Linked DNA regions of Homo sapiens. Each later gene encodes a partner of the first gene's protein in a complex. Each region holds a gene or a part of one and is shown in the gene's direction. Other genes may lie near its edges. The genes, in order: POLK and REV1.

Evidence for each region.
Region 2: the proteins of POLK (region 1) and REV1 are in contact, whole or in part, in an NMR structure (PDB 2LSI), measured with the Homo sapiens proteins. Residues at the interface, in NP_001374042.1 of Homo sapiens: Lys564, Lys565, Ser566, Phe567, Phe568, Asp569, Lys571, Arg572, Arg575; in NP_057400.1 of Homo sapiens: Asn1158, Leu1159, Ala1160, Gly1161, Ala1162, Asp1167, Leu1171, Leu1172, Glu1174, Trp1175, Thr1178, Ile1179, Met1183, Glu1185, Asp1186, Gln1189, Val1190.

The regions. Positions count from the first base shown.
Region 1 is NC_000005.10:75,605,673-75,610,570, forward strand, and holds the end of POLK (DNA polymerase kappa), read left to right. Parts: 3' UTR 1-4,319; downstream 4,320-4,898. UniProt on the Homo sapiens protein: DNA polymerase specifically involved in DNA repair. Plays an important role in translesion synthesis, where the normal high-fidelity DNA polymerases cannot proceed and DNA synthesis stalls.
Region 2 is NC_000002.12:99,437,943-99,445,239, reverse strand, and holds part of REV1 (DNA repair protein REV1), read left to right. Parts: intron 1-2,770; coding exon 2,771-2,923; intron 2,924-5,929; coding exon 5,930-6,639; intron 6,640-7,297. UniProt on the Homo sapiens protein: Deoxycytidyl transferase involved in DNA repair. Transfers a dCMP residue from dCTP to the 3'-end of a DNA primer in a template-dependent reaction.

The DNA.
Region 1 (4,898 bases):
TAGACTAATGTATTTCATCAATTCTTTATAAACCACTAAGAAATAATACCTAAGATAGGGAGTCTAACAGGTTACCACTGCATAAATATGGGACACCAAGGTTTATACCTTCAGAGCAAGGATAAAGGAGAAATCTTCCATGAAGAAAGAGGGAGCAAAGTGTAGGGGTGGGTTGCCCCTACACACCTGTGGGTGTTTCTCGTAAGGTGGGACGAGAGATTTGGAAAAGAAAAAGACACAGAGACAAAGTATAGAGAAAGAAATAAGGGGAACCGGGGAACCAGCGTTCAGCATATGGAGGATCCCGCCAGCCTCTGAGTTCCCTTAGTATTTATTGATCATCTGTGGGTGTTTCTCAAAGAGGGGGATGTGTCAGGGTCACAAGACAATTGTGGGGAGAGGGTCAGCAGACAAACACGTGAACAAAGGTCTTGGCATCATAGACAATGTAAAGGATTAAGTGCTGTGCTTTTAGATATGCATACACATAAACATCTCAGTGCTTTACAAAGCAGTATTGCTGCCCGCAGGTCCCACCTCCAGCCCTAAGGCGGTTTTTCCCTATCTCAGTAGATGGAGCATACAATCGGGTTTTATACCGAGACATTCCATTGCCCAGGGACAGGCAGGAGACAGATGCCTTCCTCTTGTCTCAACTGCAAGAGGCATTCCTTCCTCTTTTACTAATCCTCCTCAGCACAGACCCTTTACGGGTGTCGGGCTGGGGGACGGTCAGGTCTTTCCCTTCCCACGAGGCCATATTTCAGACTATCACATGGGGAGAAACCTTGGACAATACCTGGCTTTCCTAGGCAGAGGTCCCTGCGGCCTTCCGCAGTTTTTGTGTCCCTGGGTACTTGAGATTAGGGAGTGGTGATGACTCTTAAGGAGCATGCTGCCTTCAAGCATCTGTTTAACAAAGCACATCCTGCACCGCCCTTAATCCATTCAACTCTGAGTTGACACAGCACATGTTTCAGAGAGCACGGGGTTGGGGGTAAGGTCACAGAATCTCAAGGCAGAAGAATTTTTCTTAGTACATAACAAAATGGAGTCTCCTATGTCTACTTCTTTCTACACAGACACAGTAACAATCTGATCTCTCTTGCTTTTCCCCACAGCAAAGCAATTTGCATGCTCAGCCTTGGCACTGGTTGGAAGGAGGGACTGCCAGTGAGAATTTGAACCATAAACCAGTACACATGTAGGCTTGTAATCTGAATTCACACAAATGGTATCATCCTAAAGAGCTCAAGCAGAAAATGTAATTAAAGTGAGGTTAGTATTGCCCCTAGTGACTGGCAGAAGCATATGCAAATCCTCTATGGAAGAACTCAACTTCAATTCAGGCAGACAACTTAGTATCTCAATTAAAAAGATGTGATAATGTGAAAAATAGGTGTTACAGAATTGATGACTACAATGTATCTCCCATCCTTGAAGCTCACACCCTCCCAGCTAGGGGTAGCCATGTGACTGAGTTTTGACTAATGGGATATAAAAGGAAGTACTGGCCGGGTGCGGTGTCTCACGCCTGTAATCTCAGCACTTTGGGAGGCCAAGGCGGGTGGATCACCTGAGGTCAGGAGTTCGAGACCAGCCTGGCCAAGATGGTGAAACCCCGTCTCTACTCAAAATACAAAAAAGTAGCTGGGCGTGGTGGCACACACTTGTGATCCCAGCTACTCAGGAGGCTGAGGCAAGAGAATCGCTTGAACCCGGGAGACGGAGGTTGCAGTGAGCTGAGATTGCACCACTGCACTCCAACCTGGGTGACAAAGCGAGACCTTGTCTCAAAAAAAAAAAAAAAAAAAGGAAGTACTGTGTGTGGTTGCTTCTGGGAACCTTCCTTTCTTGCAGCTGTAGCATTCTGTTTGCCTCTTCTTTCTATTTCTCTGTTCCATCCTGCTGCCTGGAAGCAGATGCTGCCGTTTACACCTGAACATAAGGGTTGCACAGGGGGATGGTAGAGTAGTGGGCTGCAGGGGCTGATTCTTGGGGCTTTGTAAAACAGAGACATATCAGCACTGGCCTGCACACTTTGAGACTTTCACAAGAAACAAATTAAAAAATTGTTTAAGCCATAGTTACTTGGGTTTTCCTATTAATTATAGCTGAATCCTAGCTGATAAAGGACATAAAGATTATTAAGACATGTTTGTCCTCAAAAAATGGAGAGCCACCCCAGGGACAGTTTCTATTCAATGTAGGGAGGGCTATAATAGATGAATATACAAAGTGGGAGTCTAGGGAGAAATCGTCTGGTAGAGGAGGGCAAAGAGAAATCTAGGAAGATGTTTTTAAAAATATGGAATCCTTGAACAGGACCTGGTTTTAAAGGTTTACTTCAGAATTGAACATATTTTTTTAGTCTAGACCTTTAGGGGAAAAACTTAAAGCTTTCAGGACTCAAAGACAAGTTACTGTTCCCATGGCTAAATTGCATTCCATATTTATTTGACAAATACTTATTGCAGGTCGGGTACTGTTTTAGCCACTGGAGATGCAGTAAGAAACTTAATTAATTTTTTTTTTTTTTGAGACAGAGTCTTGCTCTGTCACCCAGGTTGGAATGCAGTGACATGATAACAGCTTGCTGCAGCCTTGACCTCCGTGGCTCAGGCCATACTCCCATCTCAGCTTCCCAAGTAGCTAAGACTACAGGTCTGCCCCACCACCACCAGCTAATTTTTAAATTTTTTGTGGAGACTGGAGTCTCACTAAGTTGCCCAGGTTGGCCTCAAACTCCTGGCCTCAAGCCATCCTCCCACTTCGGCCTCTCAAATTGCTGGGATTATAGGCATGAGACACCACGCCTGGCCCAACAAAGTTTTAAAAATCACTGTATTTATGAAGTTTACATTCTAGTTGTGGAAACCGACACTAAACAAATAGACATTTCAGTGGTAAGTGTTACAAAGGAAAGAGACAACAGCATAAGGGAATGGAACATGAAGGTAGGGGACACTTTTAGAATAAGATGATCCGAGAAGGCTCCTCTGAGGAAGTGACATTTAACCTGAAACCTTAATGATACGAAGGATCAAAACTATTTTAAAAATTCGGAAGTGGAGGTGGGGGAGAGAAGTTCTAGGCAAAGGGAGGAAATAGAAGCTGATGGCTCTCCACCAGGAAACAGTGGATGAAGAATGGAGAAGAATTGTAGGGCCCAAGATCAGAGAGATGAGTAGGGCCAGATCATGTGGGCAAGCTTTTATGTATTAGCACGCTTAGAATTAATATTCTGCTTGAGAACTAACCTGATATTTGAAACAGAGTGAAAAAGAAAATACCTCCCACAGTATACTTCATAGCTTCTTATTTAGCCCAAGCTGTCAGGGAAATAAAGTCCAGCTATGGCTAAGTTTCACATAATGCACTGCTTTGGAGTTTTTGTCTCATCTGTTAGAGTAAGATAAGTACCACATACTATTATAAGGCTATATAGCATAAAATGATGATGCATTTTCTCCTGTCATTGATAAGAGGATTTTTTTAAAAGTAAATTTCTTGGTTTAGAATTTGAAAGCAGTTTCAAACTTGGATAACACAATTCAGATCTTTTTTTAAAATTATTTTTTATTTATATTAAAAAAAAATTTTTTTTTTGAGATAGGGTCTGGCTCTATCACGCAGACTGGCACACAGTGGCACAATCTTGGCTCATTGCAACCTCTGCCTCCCAGGCTGAAGCCATCCTCCCACCTCAGCCTCCCAAGTAGCTGGGACTACAGGCATGCACCACCATGCCTGGCTAATTTTTGTAGAGAGGGGGTCTCACTTTGTTACCCAGACTGGGAGATTTTTCTGTACTTGGCTGTATGCTTTCCATTGATCTGCTGCTGTTTTCACTATTATTCCTTCTTTTGTGTGGGTATTTTCTTTTGATTTTTAGAATTTTACTTGTAAACATGCTACATATACATATAATTTGGTGCCCTGTTTTTCCATTTACATATTATACTTTCCATATTAGTACATTGTCTGATATTTCTGCATAATACTCAATTCAACTTACCTGCTATTGTTTTTATCATATCTCTATTACAAACATTAGGCCCATTTCCCTTTTTTAAAAGAGGAAAGTTTGAGGTTATGGGCGGTGTTCTGATAAAATAAATAATATTTTGTCATGTTTGTTTTTTCATTGATTAGGAAACATTGTTTTGAATTTAATGCCTCAAATTTGGTGCACAATAATTTGAAGGGAAAAACTGACAAGTTTGAAATGAACATTGATATTACATAATTTACATTAAAATGATACATCTTTTGTAAATTTGTAAGAAGAATAAATAAATGAAAACCTGATTACCTTTCTTATTTGAAGTTTATTTGGGGGGTCAGAATTTGACTTGCTTCTGTATTATTTCACTTTTCAAAAGAATCCGCCAGGAAAGATTAAAATTCATGGTCTTCAAATGAGAAATCAAGTCTTACTTTATTCAAAAGAAAATGTTGGAAGCCCATTTAGAAATGATTTAATATTGAAGTTCCTATAGTGTTAGTTATAAATTCAACCTTGACATTTCTCAAAATTATACAAAGAAGTGGTAGAGTAGAGCTGGGAGTTCATTGGGGCTTGTAGATTTTGCAGGAATTTTTTTTTTTAATGTGTTAAAACAAATTTTATTTACAATAACAGGCAGCAGCGGGATTTGGCCTGGGGATGGAGCAAAGTGACCCCCTGCTGTAGAGCAAGGTGAGTGAGTCACGCCCTTGACAACACATTCTTAGAAGTCATGCTCGTTAGGGGCAAGTTCTGTTTCTTCCACCAACGTCTTCAAGCCTCAGAATCCTTTTCTATCAAACGGGGCTAATAATAGAATACACCATACCTCAGAATTAAGTGAGGCTGTGCAAAAGGTGCTTAATTCTGTGCCTGAAATGTAGCAACA
Region 2 (7,297 bases), on another chromosome or scaffold:
ATTCAGTGTTTAAATATTAGAGTGCTTATGCAACTCATTTAAATAAAAGTTGATTGCAATTTTATCTCTCATGAGTTTTTTTTGCCATTCCTTGTGTTTTTTTTTTTTGTTCCTAAACGCAGAGGCTGTAGGACAAAGCAAGAGTAAGACTTCCCAAAATAGATGAATATTTCACTTGCTATGACTATGTTTTGATTCGTTGTATAGAATGTAAACTCTTTCATGTATATATCAGAATATAGTTTCAATGTACATGAAAAAACTCAGTGTATAAGGAAACCGTGTAGTATTATCTTTTGGATAAAGATGGATTTTTTTATTATCCTCTCCTTTTGGTTTTGAAAGAATAGTAGAAAATGTCAGTACAGTTCCTTTGCGCTTAGAACAAGAGGGGAAATAGTAAATGTGAGAAATTAATCCCAGAGAGATTTTTAAAAAGGTCTTATACAAATATGCTTTCAGATAATGTTTCTGTCTATATATCTATAGATAGATAAATGGGCAAGCAGGGGTAGTTAGGAGTATACAACTGATAGATAGTGGTTTAGGCTTCAAATTATAACTGACATTACTTCACTAACATTACTGTAGTGCATTGGGCTTTAATTCTTTTTATTGAGTATCTCTGAGGATATCTGATTTGAGACTTGCAGTATTTAAATTGGCTGTCTAATTTTGTAGCAGTCTCCATGGACTGACTTATGTAAGCCTAAGAATTCTGTGGGTGGCCACATGGCTCTTGTTAGGAGCTGGATAAGGCCTGACACCCTTGTATATGATCAGTGCTGACCATAGAGAGTACCTGTAGAGTCTGCATCACTCCAGCATGCTGTCAGTAGGGCAGGAAAAGCGAGAATGATCATAGGGCGTTTTGTTCCTTGCACTTTTGGTTTTACCTGAGATGTGCAGCTGGCACAGTGGGTGTAGTTTCACTCTCTACTTGTCTCTTAGTTATAGCTATCTATGATAAAGGATGGAAAGCTAAGGTTAGGATTTTATTTCAGGTATTAAGTAGCTGTACTTCTTTTGGTGGGGGAAGCAAGTGAGTTTGATATACATAATACCACAGAACAAAGATTTATAGTTAGGCAATTGAGACCAACTATTAAAGGAAGAAAAGGGCTGGGCGCGGTGGCTCACACCTGTAATCCCAGCACTTTGGGAGGCAGAGGCGGGTGGATCACGAGGTCAGGAGATCGAGACCATCCTGGCTAACACGGTGAAACCCCGTCTCTACTAAAAAAATACAAAAAATTAGCCGGGCGTGGTGGCAGGCGCCTGTAGTCCCAGCTACTCGGGAAGCTGAGGCAGGAGAATGGCGTGAAGCCGAGATCGCGCCACTGCACTCCAGCCTGGGCGACAGAGCGAGACTCCGTCTCAAAAAAAAAAAAGGAAGAAAAGTTGGTTTGAGGAAGAATAAAGTAAAAAATAGTCGAATTTTAGGGTTTCGATTCTAATATTTGAATGTAACCTGAAATTTTGAATGTATTTTGAATGTAACCTGAATTTTGGTAAAACATTTAGCCTGGTCATAAATCCATTTGGTTACATGTCTTGCGACTAGTATAGTATGTTCTTTACCATCATAATTTAATAGTTATAGCATTTGATATAGGTTAAGGTACTTTAGGTAGAATTGTTAAATATATATTGACATAATTATATAAAGGACATACTCTGTATCATATATAGTTCCGTTTTTAGAATCTGTTAGTATGTTTTCCTGTATTCCAAGTTGTTGACTCAGTTATTTTTAATTAGTATTCTGTAAGCCAATTCAGTCATTTCTTAAATGATTATTTTTTAAAAAGTTTTGTGTGACACCATTTAAGAAAATGAAAATGTCAAGTCTTGGATTTATGAGACAATAAGAAACATATTTTTATCATGTTATTTATCAGTCTTTTTCTAAATAACTGAGGGATGATTCCTTGGTATATATTTTAGGTTTAAAATCCAGAGGTTGTTTTGAAATATTTTCTAATATTAAAGTAGCTTGTTTTGAAATTTGGATGATAGCATAAGTATATTGATTGGTTATTTTTAAATTTGAAGTGAAATGATAATTTTAAAGGTAGAGTAGCCATATATAACTCAGTTTATTAGCAAGAAAATGTCAGTTTTAGATACTGCAATCAAATTAGTTTTAGTTCTGAAGTACAAAAGGAAGCAGACATTTGGGAACTTCAGTTACAGTGCTAGTACCACCTAGCGTTAGAACACTGGTGTTCCCCTGGATTTGAGTGGTGTTGTGTGATATGCTGTGAGGATGTACATGGTAGTTTTGGCCCTTGTAGAGTTCATATCTTCAAATGGCCTTGGCTCTTAACCATTCTTGTATACATAAAAATAGTATAAATTATTACTCTTGAAGTTGAGATTCTTTATTTTGTCCTATATTTTTATTTTACAGTTTCTGACATGAATTTGGAAATTGAGCATCCTTATTCAGTTTATTTATCTTGGAAAACCTTAATAGATGAGATTTTGATGAAGTCTTGATGATTCTCTGTTAACTGTTGACAGGGTGGTAAATACTAAAGTCATGAGGTTTAAAATATTGACTAGTTCAGCTCTGTGCTTGCAGTTTTTCCCCACTCTAAGATCATATTGTATTAGGACCACTAAAACCGAGCAAGAAGGAATAAACTAGGAAAACAGATGACCTGTTGTTGGTGAAATACTGTATCTTTAAGGACATTGAATATTTTTCATGAAGCTCATTGTCACCAAGTATGGAACTCTAAATTGGTGTTGCTTTTTGTTTCAGCATCAAAGCTGGACGACTCCTCTCCTACATTCCATATCAGCTGTACACCAAGCAGTCCAGTGTGCAGAAAGGTCTCAGCTTTAATCCTGTATGCAGACCTGAGGATCCTCTGCCAGGTCCAAGCAATATAGCCAAACAGCTCAACAACAGGGTGTAAGTTTGTCTAGTTGGGGATTACTGCAAAGCTGGTTGGTTTTTTTTTTTTTTTTTTTTTTTTGAGATGGAGTTTTGCTCTTGTTGCCGAGGCTGGAGTGCAATGGTATGATCTCGGCTCATTGCAACCTCTGCCTCCCAGGTTCAAGTGATTCTCCTGCCTCAGCCTCCCGAGTAGCTAGGCTTACAGGCGTGTGCCACCACGCCTGGCTAATTTTTGTATTTTTAGTAGAGACGGGGTTTCACCATCTTGGCCAGGCTGGTCTCGAACTCCTGGCCTTGTGATCTACCTTCCTTGGCCTCCCAAAGTGCTGGGGTTACAGGCATGAGCCACCACGCCTGGCCACAAAGCTGGTTTTTAGCAGTGAGCATGGCCCCTGCTCTGTTACAGTCAGACAGAAGCAGATACAAACCCTGGCCATTCACTTATAATAAACATGTTGAAATATGTGTGTATGAGTGTCTTATCTAAAAATGAATTATTTTTATAATGATAATTTCATAAATGTAAGTAAGTTTTTACAGTCATACTGGTTTCTCACCTTAAACTAGTGGATCTTAATTGTTAATAAGTTTTTTCATGGATTTTTATGAAAGTAATTATTTCCTCACAAGTAATTTGCTGTATTGCTTTCTCAAAAATGGAACTAACTGCACCAGCTATATTTTTGTTGTGTTCCATGCATAGAAAGACAATGAAAATGTTAATATTTCTGGGTTATTTTTGAAAAATTCAAAATTCATAACATTCTAAATATGTAAATATATAAATGGAAGTTTAGTTGGTGACCCTTGGTTATAGAATTGAAAGTGAATCTAGACTATTCCATGTGGCTGCTTTTTTTTTTTAATTTAAGCTTTTAATTGCAACCCTGGATAAATTGTTTCACAATTAATTGGTGGGTTGCCTTACCTTGTATATCAGGTGGTTCATTATGGTTAGCCTTCTCTTTATTTATTAAATTGCTTGCTTTGGGAGTTGGATATATTTTTTTTCGAAAACACCAGGAGTCTAATTAATCTGAGAGGATCCAGTATCACTGCCTTCTGTAATTTTTGTTGTCATTTGTTAATTTAACTTGTACTCACAAGCATATTCAAATATTTTTCATGTTACCTGTAGCTTTTAATTTTTTTTAATGTGCTATCAAGGTATATAGCAAATAATACCAGAAAACCTTTTCACAGAATACGTAGCTTTAGCTTTCTTTTCTTACCCACATTAATAAAAGTAGAAAATAGATATGTTTTTTCAAAATCTTCTTTGTGACACTTTAGGAAGAAATTACCTTTTAGATTTTACTTCTTAATACATTTATGCCATTGCCTAAAAAATGTATCTCTACCCGTGATATTTCCAGTACAGCTACTTTGCAAATGTCCATTTGTCTAGGCTGAGAAACTATAGTACAGCAAGAATGTATGTTAACAATGTATTTTCCTGCCAATATATGGCTTTCTGTTGCATGTGTTGCTATAATGCATGTAAAGGGTCTGAATGTTTTTGACACAAAACTAGATGTAAGACTTTCTGACGTACATCACTTTTGTTGTTTTCTGGGGTTTTTTTGGGGGGTATATTCAGTACATTTTGTACATTTCTTTGAAATGCTCATCTGTGACTTCTTGCTCCCTTGCATTCTGTTTATCTCAAGAGGCTGAACTTTCTCTGCATGTGACAAATTAGGTTTTCTTTTTTTCTTCTTTTAATCATATCTACTTTGTCTTTTTCCCCATCACTGGCATGATCATCTGTGAGCATGGCATCTACTCACAGTTGCCTGTCACATTCCATATGATGTTTAGCCAGAGCCTGAGCTAACCCAGAAATGGGTGATCATCCAGCTTGTGGGACTTTTCTGTGTAGTCAGGCTCTCATTACTAATAAACCAAGTTGGTATTAGGGTGAGGGGCTTTAGGTGGAACCTGATAATACTGTGGTAATTTCACCTGTGGCTTACTACTCTGTAGGGCAGCCCTTCATCTGGAGCCTGCGCTGTAATTGAATTAATGCTATGGACATTTGGACATTCCTAAGTAGAATGAATTACTGCTTTGTAATTCAGGTTTTTGTTTTTGTTACTTAGATGATTCTCGTGAATGCATTTCTAAACAAACGTCTAGAGGAGCCAGGATGTGACTTTAGCATAACATTTGTCATGGGTTCTGCATTTATAAAGCTGTCATCAGGAAACTTGGTCCAGATTGCCTTGTACCACCCTGGCATCTAAATATGCATTTCTTAGAAATGAAGTGCAATTTCCCTTCTCAGTAAGGCAAGCGTCCTTATTTTTCTAGGTGTAAATTTTACTGAATTACCCCCACACATTGACATGGCTTTACTTTTTGTCTATTTGTGCAACAGTTAGCTCATTAATAGGTTAATCAATATAGTCAGTTTTTTTCCTACTGAAACCATCTGGTTTCGTATTAGATTTAATGTGTTGAATAGTACCTTTCATAAAAACTAAAACTAGGAATAAGAATTCAAGTAAGGTTTTTAAATCCATTTTTATGAAAGTTATTTGTAGTATATTAATTCAGCAGATATTTATTGACCATGTAGTAAATGCCAAGCACTGTGCTTCAGAACTGGGTATTTACAGCTTATAGATTCCAATTAATTTTTTATGGGAAAAATAACTGAAAAGTTTTTTGGGTTTTTCTTCAGCCATGAGAAATGTTCTATTTTATTTCTTCTTTGGGACTATCTGAAGTGAAAATAAAAAACAAACAAAAAACACCTAAAGGGCTGTTAATATTCTAGAATTTTTCTAGTTATCTTGCTACTTTTGCAAAGAATGATCTTTTGTCAAATCAGAATATAAAGTTTGTGGTTTAAGTTTCAGGGTTTTTTTTTTTCATTGTCAATATTCAATATAAGAATTTTCTGTTTTTAAAGGGGGAAATACCAAACTGTGTACCACTAAGAAAATGATGAAATGAAAAAATTGTTTTAACCTAAAAGTCAGATATTATTAACTCAAAAATTTTTTCCTGCTTTAGAAATCACATCGTTAAGAAGATTGAAACGGAAAATGAAGTCAAAGTCAATGGCATGAACAGTTGGAATGAAGAAGATGAAAATAATGATTTTAGTTTTGTGGATCTGGAGCAGACCTCTCCGGGAAGGAAACAGAATGGAATTCCGCATCCCAGAGGGAGCACTGCCATTTTTAATGGACACACTCCTAGCTCTAATGGTGCCTTAAAGACACAGGATTGCTTGGTGCCCATGGTCAACAGTGTTGCCAGCAGGCTTTCTCCAGCCTTTTCCCAGGAGGAGGATAAGGCTGAGAAGAGCAGCACTGATTTCAGAGACTGCACTCTGCAGCAGTTGCAGCAAAGCACCAGAAACACAGATGCTTTGCGGAATCCACACAGAACTAATTCTTTCTCATTATCACCTTTGCACAGTAACACTAAAATCAATGGTGCTCACCACTCCACTGTTCAGGGGCCTTCAAGCACAAAAAGCACTTCTTCAGTATCTACGTTTAGCAAGGCAGCACCTTCAGTGCCATCCAAACCTTCAGACTGCAATTTTATTTCAAACTTCTATTCTCATTCAAGACTGCATCACATATCAATGTGGAAGTGTGAATTGACTGAGTTTGTCAATACCCTACAAAGACAAAGTAATGGTATCTTTCCAGGAAGGGAAAAGTTAAAAAAAATGAAAACAGGCAGGTCTGCACTTGTTGTAACTGACACAGGTAGATACTTATTAAAATTGTCTTCTTAAGAAACAGTCATGCTTGATCATTTTGCTCTTATGCTATTATTGGTATTTCTGGTCAATATGAAGTTCTCATAAAAGTCTCTAAGTATGTCAAATCATGTAAGTTACAGTAAGCATAACATAGAAAGCTAATTTATTAAAATATTTTTAAAACAATTAGATATAATTGTGGCTGACTGAAAATTTTCAGAGAATTTAAACAGTAAGATGGTTGGGATTCTGAGCATTCATTCCTCACGTAGACCTTATCAGTTGGTGAAGTTTTGAACTGTGTTAATATAACATCTATCCAGTGCTTAAACTCCTGTAAGAATGAAATTGGTTTGATAAGAGTAATTGTTAATTTCTAGAAGCTTGCATCATAATGATTTTTTAATTTTGACATAGAGCTGTTGTAATTAACAGTGGTAAACTTTCAGTGAGATTATTTCACATCTTAAGTACATTGGTTCATTGTATTTTGTTTTTTAATACTTTTCTTGTCATCAAAAACAAATGCACACACAGTAGCATACTGTTTTTCTGGGCCAGTCATTATAAATTAGTATCTGGTTTGAAATTTTAGTTCCTTTTACAGATTATAGGATTTTTTTATGGGGAGAGACCTCAGAGATTAATACTCTATAATTTAT